Linked DNA regions of Homo sapiens: region 1 is linked to region 2. Evidence: fine-mapped expression QTL. Tissue or cell type: whole blood. Region 2 holds a variant in brackets; the other region holds the start of a gene. All regions are shown on one strand. Distances are from middle to middle.

Region 1 (8,264 bases), 290 kb before region 2:
TATTGTTTGAAGTCAGATAATGTGATACCTCTACTCCAGCCTGGTGTGGATACCCCTCCTCACCTCACAGTAAAGGGGGCCACTGCTGGGCCTTGGGGAGGTCAGCATTTTGCCAAGAACAGATATAAGAAAAAAGTCTACTTGACTACAAGAGGTTTTTTTGAGTTGTTTTTGTTTTGTTTTGTTTGGAGGATGGGATGGTGCCTTCTGCTTTTATTTACCAATTTATTCACAAAATATTTTAAATATACCAAAAATAATAAAAAGAACCAGCCACACCCATATATCCTGATGTAAGTAATCATCATGGTTGATTAAACAGATGCGAATATTTGGACACTTCTGTTTCAGAATTCCTCCATGCTGGTACACTCCCTTTCTTGAAGAAATAAAATGTTATCAATACAACTGAAGACATCCTCCATCCCTTCCTTGCCTCCCACCTCAGAGGCAGCCTGCACATTTCTATATTTTTATTATATGTGAGAATCCATAAACAATGAATGCTATTGTTCTGTTTTTCTAAGATATGCACAAATCGTATCCCATATATGTCTTTTCGCAAATTGCCTTTTCCACCTCATATTATATTTTTGAGAGTTGGTGATGTTGCTGCCTATAAATATTGTTCATTATTCTACCTGCTGTACAGTATTCTATTATTGTAGAAGCCCCGGTCTATCCATTCTCCTGCTGGAAAACACCAGCAAGTAGTTTCCACATTTTTTGCCATTATAGATACTGCCTCAGTAAACATCTTTATACATGTCTTCTTTTGCACATGGTCATGAGTTTCTGGAGGGTGGACAGCTAATTGTGAAATTGCTGTGTGGCCACTTTCTAGGCAATTTTCAGCCAGTTATATCCGCTTTGCTGCCATTTCCTCAACCATGAAATGGGTCCCCAGTTTATGACTTGGGAGCTCCCTCATAGAGAAAATGTGAGAACCTAAAATTTTAAATAATAATTCCAGAATGTGTTTCCAATGACTTAAAAGAAAAAATCAACTGTTCCCAGTGGATACAGAGCTTAGCCAGTGACACAATGGGAATTGTGGAAATGTAGAATGTTCTCTACTCTACCTATGATTGTCCTGGATGGCTCTGCACTCTCTGCCTGCTCTGTGCCCCTCACCTCACAATGGCCATCCAGACTGGCCCTTTCTCCAACAAGTCCCCGACCCCACTGGGCTCCCCAGTCTGAGTTCTTTGGAGCTGACACTCCTTGTCCAGATCTGGTTTGGGCTCATCTCTACAGCTGGCCCCAGGGCTTTTCCTTCGAGCCCATGAATGTCTCAGGCTGGTGCGCGGACTGGCATGGAGCTGGGCAGGAAGACCACTTATATTTGAGACCTGTAGATTTTCTTACCGTTTCTTCTCTCTCCCTTTCTTTCTTTCTTTCTTTCTTTCTTTCTTTCTTTCTTTCTTTCTTTCTTTCTTTCTTTCTTTCTTTTCTTTCTTTCTCTCTTTCTCTTTCTCTCTTTCTTTCCTTCTTTTCTTTCCTTTCTTTTTTTCGTTTGTAGTTTAACCTAATAATTGAACTACTGATAAATTATTACATTTGGGAATACAAAATGTAGACTCCACACAAGAAAACAAGCGTCCCTTTGCCTGACACTTGGGGCAGTTCGATATAGAGAGATTTTTAGGTTGACTCTGAAAGTCAAGACCTCCAGACCGCATGGTAGAAGGTGTAAGGCAGAAGACAATCTCAGCTGGGGAAATTCCTGGTCTTTAAGCCAGCAACATGAAGGACTGGAAGAGCATGATGTGCTCTGTAAACCCGCAGCACTGCATTTCCTAGCTCGGCCCCACAATATGCCCCCACAGCACCCTCCAGTTCGGCATTAGTTTCTTCCTAATGTCCACTCTGCCCGAAGTGACAAGCGGGGGCATGTGGAGACTCAGCTCCAGGTTCCTGGACGGGCTCAGCCACCCCCAGAAAGCTAATGAATGCTCAACCAGGGCTTCCAGATGCCCAGGGGACAGAGCAGGAGATGCCGGGGAATGGGGCTTTCCTTGCAGTTCAGGAGGGCCCTGCCCCAGGCCCAGAAGTAGAAGGGAAAGCGGCTGTTTTGGCGGTAAACAGTAATGTGGGGAGTGCTGCAGAGAAAGGCAGTCTTGGGGTTTCAAGCTGGAGAGCAGTCAGCTACACTCAGGACCTCTGGCCATCCCTGCCTTCACCTGCTGTTTGGCCTGATCGTCTAACTTCTCTGATTCTCCACTACCCACTCCTTATTACGTTTTTGAGACTTGTCAAAGTTTTATATTAGGGCTAACTGGGACGCATACAAATCTGGTAACTTCGCCAGGGCGGGAAGTTAGGAAGGAGCAGAGCTGGCTGCAGGTGTCTGGTCCTGACCACTCCTCTATGCCACCCTTGAGGAGCTTGCTGACTTTCTCATGACGTTCTCCCATTCCAGGAGCTGCAAGTGCGTTATCCTGGCTGGAGCACGGTGTCAATCACGGCAGACTAAGGCCAGCGGTGATGGCTTGAATGCCAGGCTGGGGGCTGGGATTTTTCCTGAGGATTTCACAGGACAGAGGTTGGCTTGGAAAGACCAAGGTGGGACTGAGGAACATTCCCCCTACCCCCAACCTCGGTGGGCTGTTGCAAGCCTGGAGGCCAGAGAAGACGGGCCTGGGATGCCGCGGGCGCAGGGGCAGGCAGTGAAGGAGATGGCTGCCTTCGGTAGAGCTGGTCGCTGAGGCAGAAGAGGAGGGCGTGGGGCGTGGGGCGTGAGGTGGCCGGCGCCCCGGCTGGCCAATGGCCGGGCTGCGGCCCCTCCGCGGGGCGGGGTGGGCCTGGTGGGCGGGCGGGGCTCGGGGCGGGGGCGGAGAGGGAGCCTGGTGGGCGGGCGGGGCGCGTCTTGCGGGCTCCCTCGGGTACCGGCGCTGCCGCACCCCGCCGCGCTCCCGCACCCGCGGCCCGCCCACCGCGCCGCTCCCGCATCTGCACCCGCAGCCCGGCGGCCTCCCGGCGGGAGCGAGCAGATCCAGTCCGGCCCGCAGCGCAACTCGGTCCAGTCGGGGTGGGTGAGGGGCGGCGGCGGGGGAGGGGACGACTCTGCTGAGCTCAGCCTCTCTTGGTGGATGTGGGGCGGGGCGCTCGAGTAGGACCCGACGCCAAGGGGAGGGGGCTGACCTGTGCTTGGTCCACCCCAGGTAGGGGCTGAGAGAGGCTTGAGGTGGAAGTGGGGGTCGGGCACTCTGACCTGGTCGAGGAGGGGCTAGGGTTTGAACCGGGGACAGAGTCTAGGTGAGCTGGGGCTTGGGAGCTATTAGCGTAGAGGATCCGGGTTCGGTTGCTCTGGCGAGGGCTCCAGCATCACAGGTGAGGAGCAGAGCTCAGCTTGTGCTCGAGGATGGGGGTGCGGGGTCCTGGGGCGATCGGGGCTCGGGCTGGAGCGGGTGGGGTCGCGTCTTTTCGGGTGTAGGGGAGCTGCGTTTTCAGGGGCCTCGGTTTCCTCCCGTCTCCGGGCGGGTGCGGGAAAGAGGGGCGCCAGGGGCGGGCGGCGGGGCGGAACGGGGCGGGGCGGCGGGCCCAGCGAGGGGGGTGGTCCGCGCGCCTCTGATCGCGTTCCGGGACACACAGGCGGCGGCTGCGGGCGCAGAGCGGAGATGCAGCGGCTTGGGGCCACCCTGCTGTGCCTGCTGCTGGCGGCGGCGGTCCCCACGGCCCCCGCGCCCGCTCCGACGGCGACCTCGGCTCCAGTCAAGCCCGGCCCGGCTCTCAGCTACCCGCAGGAGGAGGCCACCCTCAATGAGATGTTCCGCGAGGTTGAGGAACTGATGGAGGACACGCAGCACAAATTGCGCAGCGCGGTGGAAGAGGTGGGTGCGCCCTGGCGGCGCGGGGCTCTGAGAAGCGCCAGACTGGGGGCAGCGAAGTCTGGGAAGGCATGGAAGAGCGCTGGCCAGGGACCTCGGGTCCCGCGCAGGGCCTGGGAAGGGCCGACAGCAGATGCGGAGTGACCTGGAGGCAGCGCACGGTGATCCCTACTCCCGCCTCGTTTTGCCTCCTTGCCAAAAAGTCTGGATCTGAGCCTGTCCACCGAGAGGCTCTGCACTGGACCCTCCCTAGGTAGCTGGGGCCACCACCTGCCTGCAGTTGGCGTCAGGCATGCCGTTGGCCTTCCCTATTGTCAGCAGAGGTTTGCAGGGCCCCTGGTATTCCAGCACTGTGGTTTCACAGAAACCCGGGACAAGCTCCAGGCATCGCCAAGTTCTAGCTTGTCCGTTATGCTTTGAGCTTGTTAGGATGCCATGCAGGGACAAAGAGGCAAAGAGCCCTGAGCTTTGCTGGCAGTCTGTCTGGGCTGTCTTGCTTCTCACGCAATGTGGGGGCAGAGAGGGAAGATGGAAATCCTAAATCTCAGCACTGTATGAGTGGCGGATGAGGATGTGAGAGGCAATACCCCCTCCACCCAACGGTGCTTCGCAGTTGTCCTGGGCTCAGGTCCTCCTCTGCCACTCAGTAGCAGGGTGACATTGGGCAAATCACTTAATATCCTGCACCTCAGTTTCCTGTGAAAACTAAATGTCATATGTGTGGGCACCTGGCAAATAATAGGTGCGCAGTATTTAGCAACTATTATCAGATACCACGTACCTTAGCAAAGCTTTGCCTAGCTTCTGCCCTCCATCACCTCCAGGTCTAAACACTGTGGGTGGCATCTTGTTCTGTCCTCTGTGATGGTCACCCACGCATGCCCAGGGCTACCTGGGCAGGAGATGTCACTGGCCCAGCCCTCTCTGTCCAGGTGCGGGGAGCTGTCCCTGGTGCCTGGGGTGGGTAGACGAGGGCGCTGTTGGGCCCAATCTGTCTGTAGCCTGTGTCTATAGAGAGGAGCCAGCCGTCCTAGTGAAGGAGGCAGCAGGAAACCAATGTCCAGGCTGGTTGGCCCCTGGTCTGGCTTCACATCCCTGCTGTCTCCAGCTTGGTATCCCCCTTGGGCAAAGCCTTAACTGCTGGCCCTTGTCTCCAGGGGGAAGTTGCTTTCTCCCCGCAGCCCTTTGTAGTTTGGGGCTATTTCCCCTCCCACTCCACAACAGTTAGCCTGTGGAGTTTGCAGTGAAGGGGACACTGGCTTGGGAGGCAGTGAAATGGGCAGCTGTCCTTGAATATCCACTGGACAGGCCCAGATCCCAAGACCCATGATCTTTCTGTTTCCTGTGATTGCAAAACAATCATGACATGGAGCAATTAAAGGGTGAAGGGATTCAGATAGGCCCCAATGTCTCTTAACTCTGAAGCTTCAAATTAAGTGGAGTTTGCGATGCCTCTGGTTCTAGGGCAGGCCATCTGCTTTCCTTATCCAGGTTCTAGGACTTTCCCTCCTGCACACAGATTCCCGGTAAGACTGACTAAGTCACCTCTATGTTTTTGTGCCCACCACTGTTCAGAAAGTCTGCAGCGTGGTCCTCTGACGTTAGCTTCTGCTGAGGGAGGAGAGAGAGCAGCAAGGGCCTCTTCAGTCTCTTCTTGAGCAGAGCAGTGTGGGGCCCTGCAGGACCTAGTGACGGGGTCTTCTCCATGGGCGTTATCCAGACTGGATTTTGCCAAGACCCCAGCTTTCCTCCCTCTAGATGTGGCTCTGTGTAGGTTGGGGGGTTGAAGTTTGCCACCAGAGGAGATGTGGGCTGTCACTTCTACCCCACTCTTTCCCAGAGGTGTCCTCGCTGGCAGTGGGTACAGGATGAGAGAGGTTGAACACCATGGCAGGAGAAGAGGCAGTGGGGACTGATCTTCCCTCATCCAGTCCCTGCTCTGCCACTTACTGGCAGTGGCGTTCCGAGTCTGAAGTGGAGAAATGTCCACCTCTTAGGGTAAGGTGAGAATTAAATGAGATGCTGCAAGTAAAGCAAATCAGTGAGTTGGGCAGCTATCCCTGAATATCCACTGGTCAGGTCAAGAGCCCAAGATCCATGATCTTTGTTTCCTGTGATTGTGAAACTATCATGACATGGAACAATTAAAGGGTGAAGGGAGTCATATAGGCCCCAATGTCTCTTAATTCTGCAGCTTCACATTAAATTGAGCTTGTGATGCCTGTGGTTCTAGGGCAGGCCATCCGCTGACTGCCTAAAATGGGGTTAAGTAAAACACGTGTAATACAGGTAGCTTCATTGTGAGGTGGCTGTAAGGATGACATGATGGTTGGTTGTAAATAAGTAACAGGTATCATTATCATCATATTACTAGTAGCAGTATGAATGATAACAAAACACCACCAGTGTCTGATAGATTCTCAATAGAATCTATCTTTTAAAATATCTTAAACCATTAAAAATTAATCTTAAAATACTAAAAGTATCTTTTAGATATCTTCAAAAATAGAATACAATAGATTGTTTATAGACTGTGGTTATTAGTATTAACTTTTTATGGAGACTGCCAGAATGCCCCTTAAATCTCATAGACACAGGATAATTGGTATTTAGTCATTGTTCAGGGGAAAAATCAAAAAGGACCTGGGCCAGATGCATTATTTGTTTACATAGTTGCATCATGAATCTCCTTTCAAGTAACTTCCTGGCATTTTCAATGTTCCAGCTGAATCAAGCTGTTGAAGTTTCTTAAGGGGAAGGACAAAGCAGCTCTACTTGTACGGTCATTATTGGAAGAAGCATATCTTCAAATGGCTTCAATCTGGGATATTCCTACTTTCCTGTGTTACTATTCTATATGCTACCAATCAATGTATTCTGAAGATATAACCACTCTGTTTCTCTTCCCCTCATGGCCAGCTCTGTAACTCACTCATTTTAGAATGTTCTTACTGCCTCACCTATTTCTAGTATAAGTGCCATTTTTAATAGCATTCACATTCCTCCTCTACGAAACAGCTCCTTTTGCTTCAGACTTAAGTTTCTCTTGCTAGTGGCAATAATAGTTGCGGTTGAAATTTCCATTGTAAACTATACTTTTAGTTCATGGTGCCATTTAAGAACCGTTAGCTCATTCTGTTGAAATAACCAGTGGCTGAGCTGGGGGGAAAAGTTTTATAAAAAGACTATCTGCTCAGCCCAGAGCAAATTCTAGGTTTGGCAACTTGTCAATTATTTGAAAGCCAAACTGATCCCGATGGGAATTTTAAAAACACTAAAACATTCTCTTCTTCTGGGTGGGTCCTCTCCAGCACCTTCAGTCTTCTCTTCCCAGCTGCGTTTTTTTCTATCACTAACCAGAGTGGTAACTGAGGGCAAGGTCTCTTGCTTTTAAGGAAAGTCATTTTCTTGCCCATTCTGTCTTCTATCTCAGCCCCATTTCTTCTCCCCTTTGTTGGCAAGCTCTTCAAACACATGATATCAACGTTTGCTCTTCCTGCTTCTAGCTACCCATTCCCTTCAGAACTCTGGCAAAACAAACTGGCTTCTTTTGAAACTGCCTTCTTAAAGGGCAACGGGATAAAAACAGCTGTGTATTTCATCTTTGCTGTGTGGCAGATAGTGTATTTCATGCCTTAATTCTTATATCTACTGCATGGTCCTTAATTCTTATATCTACTCAACAAAGTAGGACATCCCTATTTTACAAATGAGCAAGCTGAGGTTTAGTGGGATTTGGTATCTTGCCTAAAGTCATACAGCTACTTTGTGGCAGAGCCAGGACTTGAACCCACCTTGTCTGACTCCAGAATCCTGGTACTTTCCACTGTGTTCCTCTCCGAGGATGCTGCAGGCAATGACTTGACTCATCCAGTGGCCATCTCTCAGTGGCTTGATCCTTCTAGACTTACTTAGAGTCTTTCCCACCTAGAAGGTCCCTACCCAGAAGTAGCTCCCATCTCCTAGACCTAATTCTAGCCAGTTTCCTGACTCCCCTCTCTTTCTGATCTACTCTTTATATTATTTCCCGCTAGCCTTCTGGAACTTGCTGTAGTTCCCTATTGCCTGGAACGGAGATTCTTAACTGGGGATCAGAGGGAGGGGAGGGAAATCCTCAGAATAAGCTGAGAAGCTCAGTATTATCAGGGTCTCATCTCTAGAAATCCCAATTCAGCGGGTCCATGAAGGGATCCAGATATTTCAATTTTTTAAACTTTTGGACCTGACTCTATAATCACAGCTTCCCCATAAGGTTGCTGTCAATATTCAAGGCATCTGGTGCAACGATTCAGACATAGTCAATGCCCCAAACGTGGGGGCTATTCTTAGAATTATTATTGTTATGAAGCCAGTGATCAAGTTTCAAACATCTCAGCAGCCATCTCAGAATCCAGCACAGAATCCGGCCACTGACTAAGTCCTTGTTGAGCCTTT
Region 2 (8,264 bases):
GGAGTGTTTTCAAGAAGAAACAGAATCAACTTAGTGGCACCATTGAGGCTCTTACAGCTGAACACCAGATGCAAGGATTTTTTTAAAAGAAAATCGCAAGCCTCTCTTCTTTCTAGAAGCAGGGGTTTAGTGCTTAGTTAGTTAGAATACAGCTATTTCAGGAGACATTGCCAAAGCCTGAGAAAGGAGGTGTCAGAGAGCCATGTTATAACTGATATAAACCTAGCCCTGGGGCTAGTTTGGACAAACAGCCCATTGATTCTCTCTGGATCTGTTTGTCTGATCCAATGGAATATGGAGAGGGTGCTCTTTAAGTCATCCTGCAGTTTTAAATCAAGTATCTACTGTGCTGTGCTGGGGGGCCCATGGGACCTGCCGGTCTACGGAGCCCCTGCTTATTTTCTAACCCTGCTGTATCAGGCTAGATCAGTAATTCCCAACCATGTGGGCAGGCATGACACCTGAACCTCCTGCTCCCTGGACCCCTTATCTTCTGGGCAGGAGGCTCAGTCAATTCCTTTTTCTTAAGCTCAGATTCCTGCCATTAAAAAAAGTATAAGTAGGCTGGGTGGGTGGCTCACGCCCATAATCCCAGCATTTTGGGAGGCTGAGGTGGGGGATCACTTGAGCCCAGGAGTTTGACACCAGCCTGGGCAAAATGGTGAGACCCTGTCTCTACAAAAAAATACAAAAATTAGCTGGGTACAGTGGCACATGCCTGTAGTCTCAGCTATTTGGAAAGCTGAGGTGGGAGGTTGAGACCAGGAGATCAAGGCTACGGTGAGATGTGATTTAGCCACTGCACTCCAGGCTAGGTGACAGAGTAAGACTCTGTCTCAAAAAATATATATATATGTATAGAAATACAGTTTCATCTAATGCACTATTGATCAGTATGCATTTTGTATGTGTGTCATGATTAATATATCTGCTATGGCTTGAATGTCCCCTTCAAAATATATTGAAATTTAATTGCCATTGTGACCGTATTAAAAGGTGGGACCTTTAAAAGGTGATTAGGTCATGAGGGGTCTGCCCTCATAAATGGATTAATGCTGTTATCACAGGAGTGGGTTACTTGTCTCAGAAGTGTGCCCCGATAAAAGGATGAGTTTGGCCCAATTTCCTCTCTCTGTCTCATGTGCACATTTTCTTGCCATGTGATGACCTTCCACCATGTTATGAGGCAGCAAGAAGTTCCTCACCAGATGGCTGAGCAGATGCTGTTGCTATGCCTTTGAACTTCTCAGCCTCCAGAACCATGAACCAAATAAATCACCTTTCTTTATAAATTCCCTGATCTGTGATATTCTGTCAAAGCAGCAGAAAATGGAAGAGGACAATATCTAATTTCCTCCATTAGATGTTTAAGGTAGGCCAGGCACAGTGGCTCATGGCTGTAATCCCCACAGTTTGGGAGGCTGAGGCAGGCAGATCACCTGAGATCAGTAGTTCAAGACCAGCCTGGCTAACATGGCAAAACCCCATCTCTACTAAAAATACAACAATTAGCTGGGCGTGGTGACAGGCACCTGTAGTCTCAGCTACTCAGGAGGCTGAGGCAGAAGAATCACTTGAACCCGGGAGGTGGAGGTTGCAGTCAGCTAAGAACGCACCACTGCACTCCAGCCTGGGCAACAGAGTAAGACTCCATCTCAAAAAAAAAAAAGTATATTTAAAGTATGTGTTTGTATATATGTGGTGTGTATGTATATACATACATACATACACACACATGCATGCATGGTAAACAGAACAATGGCCCCCAAAGATGTGCACATCCTAATCCCTGGAATCTGTGACTATGTCACCCTACATGGAAAAAGGAAATTTGCAAATGTGATTAATTTAAGGATCCTGAGACAGAGAGATTATCCTGGAGTATCTGGGTAGGCCCAACATAATACAAGGCCCTTACAAGAGAGAAATGGGAGCAGACTGAGTCAGAAAAAGAAAAAATAGTGACTGAACTAGATGTTGGAAACTGTGCTTTGAAGATAGAGGAAGGGACCAGGAGCCAAGGAATGCAAGCAGCTTCTAGAAGCTGGAAAGAGCAAGGAAATGAATGCTGTCTTAAAGCCTCCAGAAGGGATGCAGCCCTGACAACACTTTGGCTTTAGATTCCTTTAGAGCTCCATAACTGTGGAAAATAAAGTTTTATTGTTTCAAGCCCTAAATTTGTGGCAATTTATTATAGCAGCTATAGGAAACTAATGCTACATATACATACACACATATGTAATATATATTCTAAGTTATAAAATTCAAAGATTTTGAAACTTACATATATTTGAACATGTTACATAAAGTGAAATAGCAAGAACTTACACTTAGAGTAGTGATAATGATGTAAGACTGTGGTTTCTGGAGCCAGCTCTGCCCCTTTCAGGTATGGTGACCTTGGCAAGTCACTTAATCTCTCTGTATCTCAGTTTCCTCATTTCTAAAATAGGGATATGATCTTACCTCATAGGGCTGAAGTGAGGATGAAATGAGGTAATATATCTAAAATACTTATAAGAGTGCCTGGCACTTAGTAAGTACCATATTATATATCCCAATTTTTCAGAGGAGAAAACGGAGGTTGACTTTCCCATGGCTATGCAGCTCTGAAGTGACACAGGGGGCATTGGAACCTAGCTGGTTCAGCTCCAGCAGGGCTCCCATACCATACTTCCTCATAATACAAAGGCAAAGTCTCCTTTCCTAGCCCTCAATTCCAATCCATGACCAAGCAATCCTATTAACTATTTGGTATTTACCCTTCCAGACACAAGTATACATGTGCATGTGCTCACACATACATGTGTGTGTAAAAAACATATAATAATTTTAAAAATAAAATAAATATAATTATGTCATTTTGAAGCTTACATAATATATCAGAAACACATTTTTTGTTAAATTTACTTTAGTTATATAGATGAATTTTTTTTAAAAGTTAGAATATTGTAGGTAAAGCTAAAGTCCCCTTTGACCACCACCTTTAATCCTGGTCTTCCCTATGCTTTGAGATAACTACTCTTTGAATATAGCGCATATCCTTCCAGACCTTACTTTGCACACATGCACCCATAATAAATGGATAGCATTGTTTATTTTTTATGTCTATGTTCTTACATACATTGTATCATACTATAAGAATTGTTCTAAAACTTGGCATTGTATTTCTGAGATCTAACTACACTTATGAACAGAGATTTGGTTTAGTCCTCTTAGTCACTGAATTGCATTCTGCCACATTATATTTTTCCATTCCATTATTGATGTCCCTTTAGGTCATTTTCAATTTCTTGCTATTTGAATGCTTCAGATAGCTTTCTTATCCAGTCTTCTTGGATGCATGTGAAAGTGGTTCCCTGGGTACGGATCTAGACTAGGAAATGCTGGGTCACAGGATAAGCACATTTGCAGGTTTAATAGATTCTGCCAAAGAACCTTCTGAAGTGATTGTCTTCATTTATATTTCTTCCAACAGTGTATAAGTGTATTTTTTCCTCTACAGTATCCTCAACACTTGATTCTGTCAGTGTTTTGGTTTTTGCAGATATGATGAATGAAAATAGGATCTTTTTGTTTTAGTTTGCTTTTGGAAAGTTTATCAATTAGACAGATGAGCAACTTTTCAAACTGCTTATGTGAATTTCCTCTTTTATGAGTGGCTTGTTCATATTCCTTCCCCAATTTTTACCACATTGTTTGTCTTTTTCTTATGATTTGTAGAAGTGCTTGTGGATATCTTTCTGTCTAGATACTATAGGTGTACTTGATTTTTAAAAAAATGGTTGCATCGTATTCAGCCATATATGTGAAACCCTGAGGTCAGATCTGGTCCTCCATCTGTTTCTGTAAAAAAAAAAAAA[T/A]TTTTTTGAGATGCAGTCATATGCATTTTTTTGTATGTTGTATGTGGCTGATTTAGTGCTACAACAGCAGAGCTGAGTAGCTACGACATAGACCATATGGCCCACAAAGCCTTAAAATATTTACTCTCTGGCTCTTTAGAGAAAAAGTTTGCCCTGATATGGATAAATCATAATTTCTTTAGCCATTCTTCTTTTGATGAATATGTAAGTTGTTTTCCGTTATCCAATATTATGAACAATTCTGTAATTAATATTATTGTACACACTTATAACTTTGTCTGTAGAAGTGAATGTTTCTGTAGGCTGGATTCCTGAAAGTGGACTTGCTGGCTTATCAGATTTCTGTATTTAGCGGAACTTGCTCATCAGTAATATTTGAATTGGAGGATATTTTTAAGAAGTGAGGTTATTTCCTAGGAATAGTGATAGCTTTCTATTATTTAGCACCTGCTAGGTACCAGACACTGTACTAGGTGTCTTATATACATTCCCTCATTTAATCTTTCCAATAAGCCAGAAATTGGTGTTAATAACAGCTTTTTATATAAGGAATTTGAGGTTCAGTGAAGTTAAATGGCTTGTCCAAAACAACAGAGCTGGTGCACAGGAGAGCCAGGATTTGAACCCATTTCTCTGACTTCGAAGCTCCTATATTTTCTACTACACAATGTTGTCTCTCAGTGAAAAACTAGGTGATGCAAACAATTGGCATTACATAGCTTTGTGAGTAGCAATTATGCATATTTGTCTCTGTTAAGTGAACAGGTAACAACATTCGTAATTAATGCAGTAAGTTTCTGTAGACAGATGGGTTAGATTAAAGTAATTTTATAGACTCTTTAAAACTGTTGGCTTTCTTAAGCTAAACATTTCTTTTGCAATCTTATTTATGTTTCTATAAATAAATGCACAGCTGTGATGTAGTAGAAAGAATACTGGATTTAGAAATCCAAATTTGGGAAAAAAAACCCAACATGGTTTCTGCCTTCTTGGAAGGTTGCTGTGTGACTGTGGGCAAGTTTCCTACCTTCTCTATGCTCTAGTTTGTTCACAAGAGTTGTGAGAAATCAGTGTGAATGACCATGAGGTACTTGACCCAGTGCCTGGTATGTAGTAAAGGTGCAATCCGTGATGGTCCTTGTTCCTGAGGATATTTCCAGAAAGAGTGTTCAATCTGATAAACGCTGGGTACATTTCAGTGAGCTTGCCTCATGGCTCAAGCTCTGCCTTGCTCTGAAGCCACACCTAATGCCACTCCCTTGGCCTGATAGTAACCAACAGATGCCAGAACCATCCATTGCCAAGAATGTACGTAATGCCTGTGGTATACAGAAATGAGAGGACAGGTTATGACATGTCTTGGCATTTAAATTTTGGTGTACTGGGGCAGTTCCAAGATGGCTGAATAGGAACAGCTCCAGTCTATAGCTCCCAGCGTGAGTGACGCAGAAGACGGATGATTTCTGCATTTCTAATTGAGGTACTGGGTTCATCTCACTGGGGCGTGCCGGACAGTGGGTGCAGGACAGTGGGTGCAGTGCATCAAGCATGAGCCGAAGCAGGGTGAGGCATTGCCTCACCCGGGAATCGCAAGGGGTCAGGGAATTCCCTTTCCTAGCCAAAGAAAGGGGTGACAGATGGCACCTGAAAATTGGGTCACTCCCACCCTAATACGAGCTTTTCCGATGGTCTTAGCAAATGGCACACCAGGAGATTATATCCCGTGCAAGGCTTGGAGGGTCCTACGCCCATGGAGCCTCGCTCATTGCTAGCACAGCAGTTTGAGATCAAACTGCAAGGCGGCAGCAAGGCTGGGGGAGGGGCGCCCACCATTGCTGAGGCTTGAGCAGGTAAACGAAGCGGCCGGGAAGCTCGAACTGGGTGGAGCCCACCCACTATAGCTCAAGGAGACCTGCCTGCCTCTATAGACTCCACCTTTGGGGGCAGGGCATAGCCAAACAAAGGGCAGCAGAAACCTCTGCAGACTTAAATGTCCTTGTCTGACAGCTTGGAAGACAGTAGTGGTTCTCCCAGCATGCAGCTTGAGATCTGAGAATGGACAGACTGCCTCCTCAAGTGGGTCCTGGACCACCGAGTAGCCTAACTGGGAGGCACCCCAAAGTAGGGGCAGACTGACACCTCACACAGCTGGGTACCCCTCTGAGACAAAACTTCCAGAGGAACGATCAGGCAGCAACATTTGCTGTTCACCAATATTCGCTGTTTTGCAGCCTCCGCTGCTGATACCCAGGCAAACAGGGTCTGGAGTGGACCTCCGGCAAACTCCAACAGACCTGCAGCTGAGGGTCCTGACTGTTAGAAGGAAAACTAACAAACAGAAAGGACATCCACACCAAAACCCCATCTGTACCTCACCATCATCAAAGATCAAAAGTAGATAAAACCACAAAGATGGGGTAAAAACAGAGCAGAAAAACTGAAAATTCTAAAAATCAGAGCACCTCTCCTCCTCCAAAGGAACGCAGCTCCTCACCAGCAATGGAACAAAGCTGGACAGAGAATGACTTTGACGAGTTGAGAGAAGAAGGCTTCAGATGATCAAACTTCTCCAAGCTAAAGGAGGAAGTTTGAACCCATGGTAAATAAGTTAAAAACCTTGAAAAAAGATTAGACGAATGGCTAACTAGAATAACTAGTGTAGAGAAGTCCTTAAAGGACCTGATGGAACTGAAAACCATGGCAGGAGAACTACATGACAAATGCACAAGCTTCAGTAGCCGATGTGATCATCTGGAAGAAAGGGTATCAGTGATGGAAAATCAAATGAATGAAGTGAAGTGAGAAGAGAAGTTTAGAGAAAAAAGAATAAAAAGAAACGAACAAAGCCTGCAAGAAGTATGGGACTATGTGAAAAGACCAAATCTATGTCTGATTGGTGTACCTGAAAGTGACGGGGAGAATGGAACCAAGTTGGAAAACACTCTGCAGGATATTATTAAGGAGAACTTCCCCAATCTAGCAAGACAGGCCAACATTCAAATTCAGGAAATACGAAGAACGCCACAAAGATACTCCTCAAGAAGAGCAGCTCCAAGACACACAATTGTCAGATTCACCAAAGTTGAAATGAAGGAAAAAATGTTAAGGGCAGCCAGAGAGAAAGGTCAGGTTATCCACAAAAGGAAGCCCATCAGACAAACAGCTGATCTCTCCGCAGAAACTCTACAAGCCAGAAGAGAGTGGGGGCCAATATTCAACATTCTTAAAGAAAAGAATTTTCAACCCAGAATTTCATATCCAGCCAAACTAACCTTCATAAGTGAAGGAGAAATAAAATACTTTACAGACAAGCAAATACGGAGAGACTGTGTCACCACCAGGTCTGCCCTACAAGAGCTCCTGAAGGAAGCACTAAACATGGAAAGGAACAACTGGTACCAGCCACTGCAAAAACATTCCAAATTGTAAAGACCATCGAGGCTAGGAAGAAACTGCATCAACTAATGAGCAAAATAACCAGCTAACATCATAATGACAGGATCAAACTGACACATAACAATATTAAACTTAAATGTAAATGGGCTAAATTCCCCAATTAAAAGACACAGACTGGCAAATTGGATAAAGAGTCAAGACCCATCAGTGTGCTGTATTCAGGAAACCCATCTCACATGCAGAGACACACATAGGCTCAAAATAAAGGGATGGAGGAAGATCTACCAAGCAAATGGAAAACAAAAAAAGGCAGGGGTTGCAATCCTAGTCTCTGATAAAACTGACTTTAAGACAAAAAAGATCAAAAGAGACAAGGCCATTACATAATGATAAAGAGATCAATTCAACAATAAGAGCTAACTATCCTAAATATATATGCACCCAATACAGGAGCACCCAGATTCATAAAGCAAGTCCTTAGAGACATACAAAGAGACTTAGACTCCCACACAATAATAATGGGAGACTTTAACACCCCACTGTCAACATTAGACAGATCAATGAGACAGAAAGTTAACAAGGATATCGAGGAATTGAACTCAGCTCTGCACCAAGTGGACTTAATAGACATCTACAGAACTCTCCACCCCAAATCAACAGAATATACATTCTTCTCAGCACCACACTGCACTTATTCCAAAATTGACCACATAGTTGGAAGTAAAGCACTCCTCAGTAAATGTAAAAGAACAGAAATTATAACAAACTGTCTCTCAGACCACAGTGCAATCAAACTAGAACTCAGGATTAAGAAACTCACTCAAAACCGATCAACTACATGGAAACTGAACAACCTGCTCCTGAATGACTACTGGGTACATAACGAAATGAAGGCAGAAATAAAGATGTTCTTTGAAACCAACGAGAACAAAGACACAACATACCAGAATCTCTGGGACATATTTAAAGCAGTGTGTAGAGGGAAATTTATAGCACTAAATGCCT

What was found. PIP is the estimated chance that this variant, and not a neighbour inherited with it, causes the effect.
Region 1: DKK3 starts here. The variant in region 2 is fine-mapped to the expression of DKK3 in whole blood (TOPMed, PIP above 0.99).

The regions. Positions count from the first base shown.
Region 1 is chr11:12,003,939-12,012,202 of GRCh38, reverse strand. DKK3 (dickkopf Wnt signaling pathway inhibitor 3) reads left to right here and starts at 3,577. Exons shown (of 7, transcript NM_001018057.2): 1 at 3,577-3,833. The coding sequence starts at 3,621. RefSeq lists an enhancer at 4,390-5,325.
Region 2 is chr11:11,714,423-11,722,686 of GRCh38, reverse strand. No RefSeq gene overlaps it. Among named protein-coding and RNA genes, the nearest start is that of MIR4299, 62 kb to the right of the region's middle. RefSeq lists an enhancer at 4,705-5,904. The variant T/A (reference allele first, on the strand shown) is at 3,864.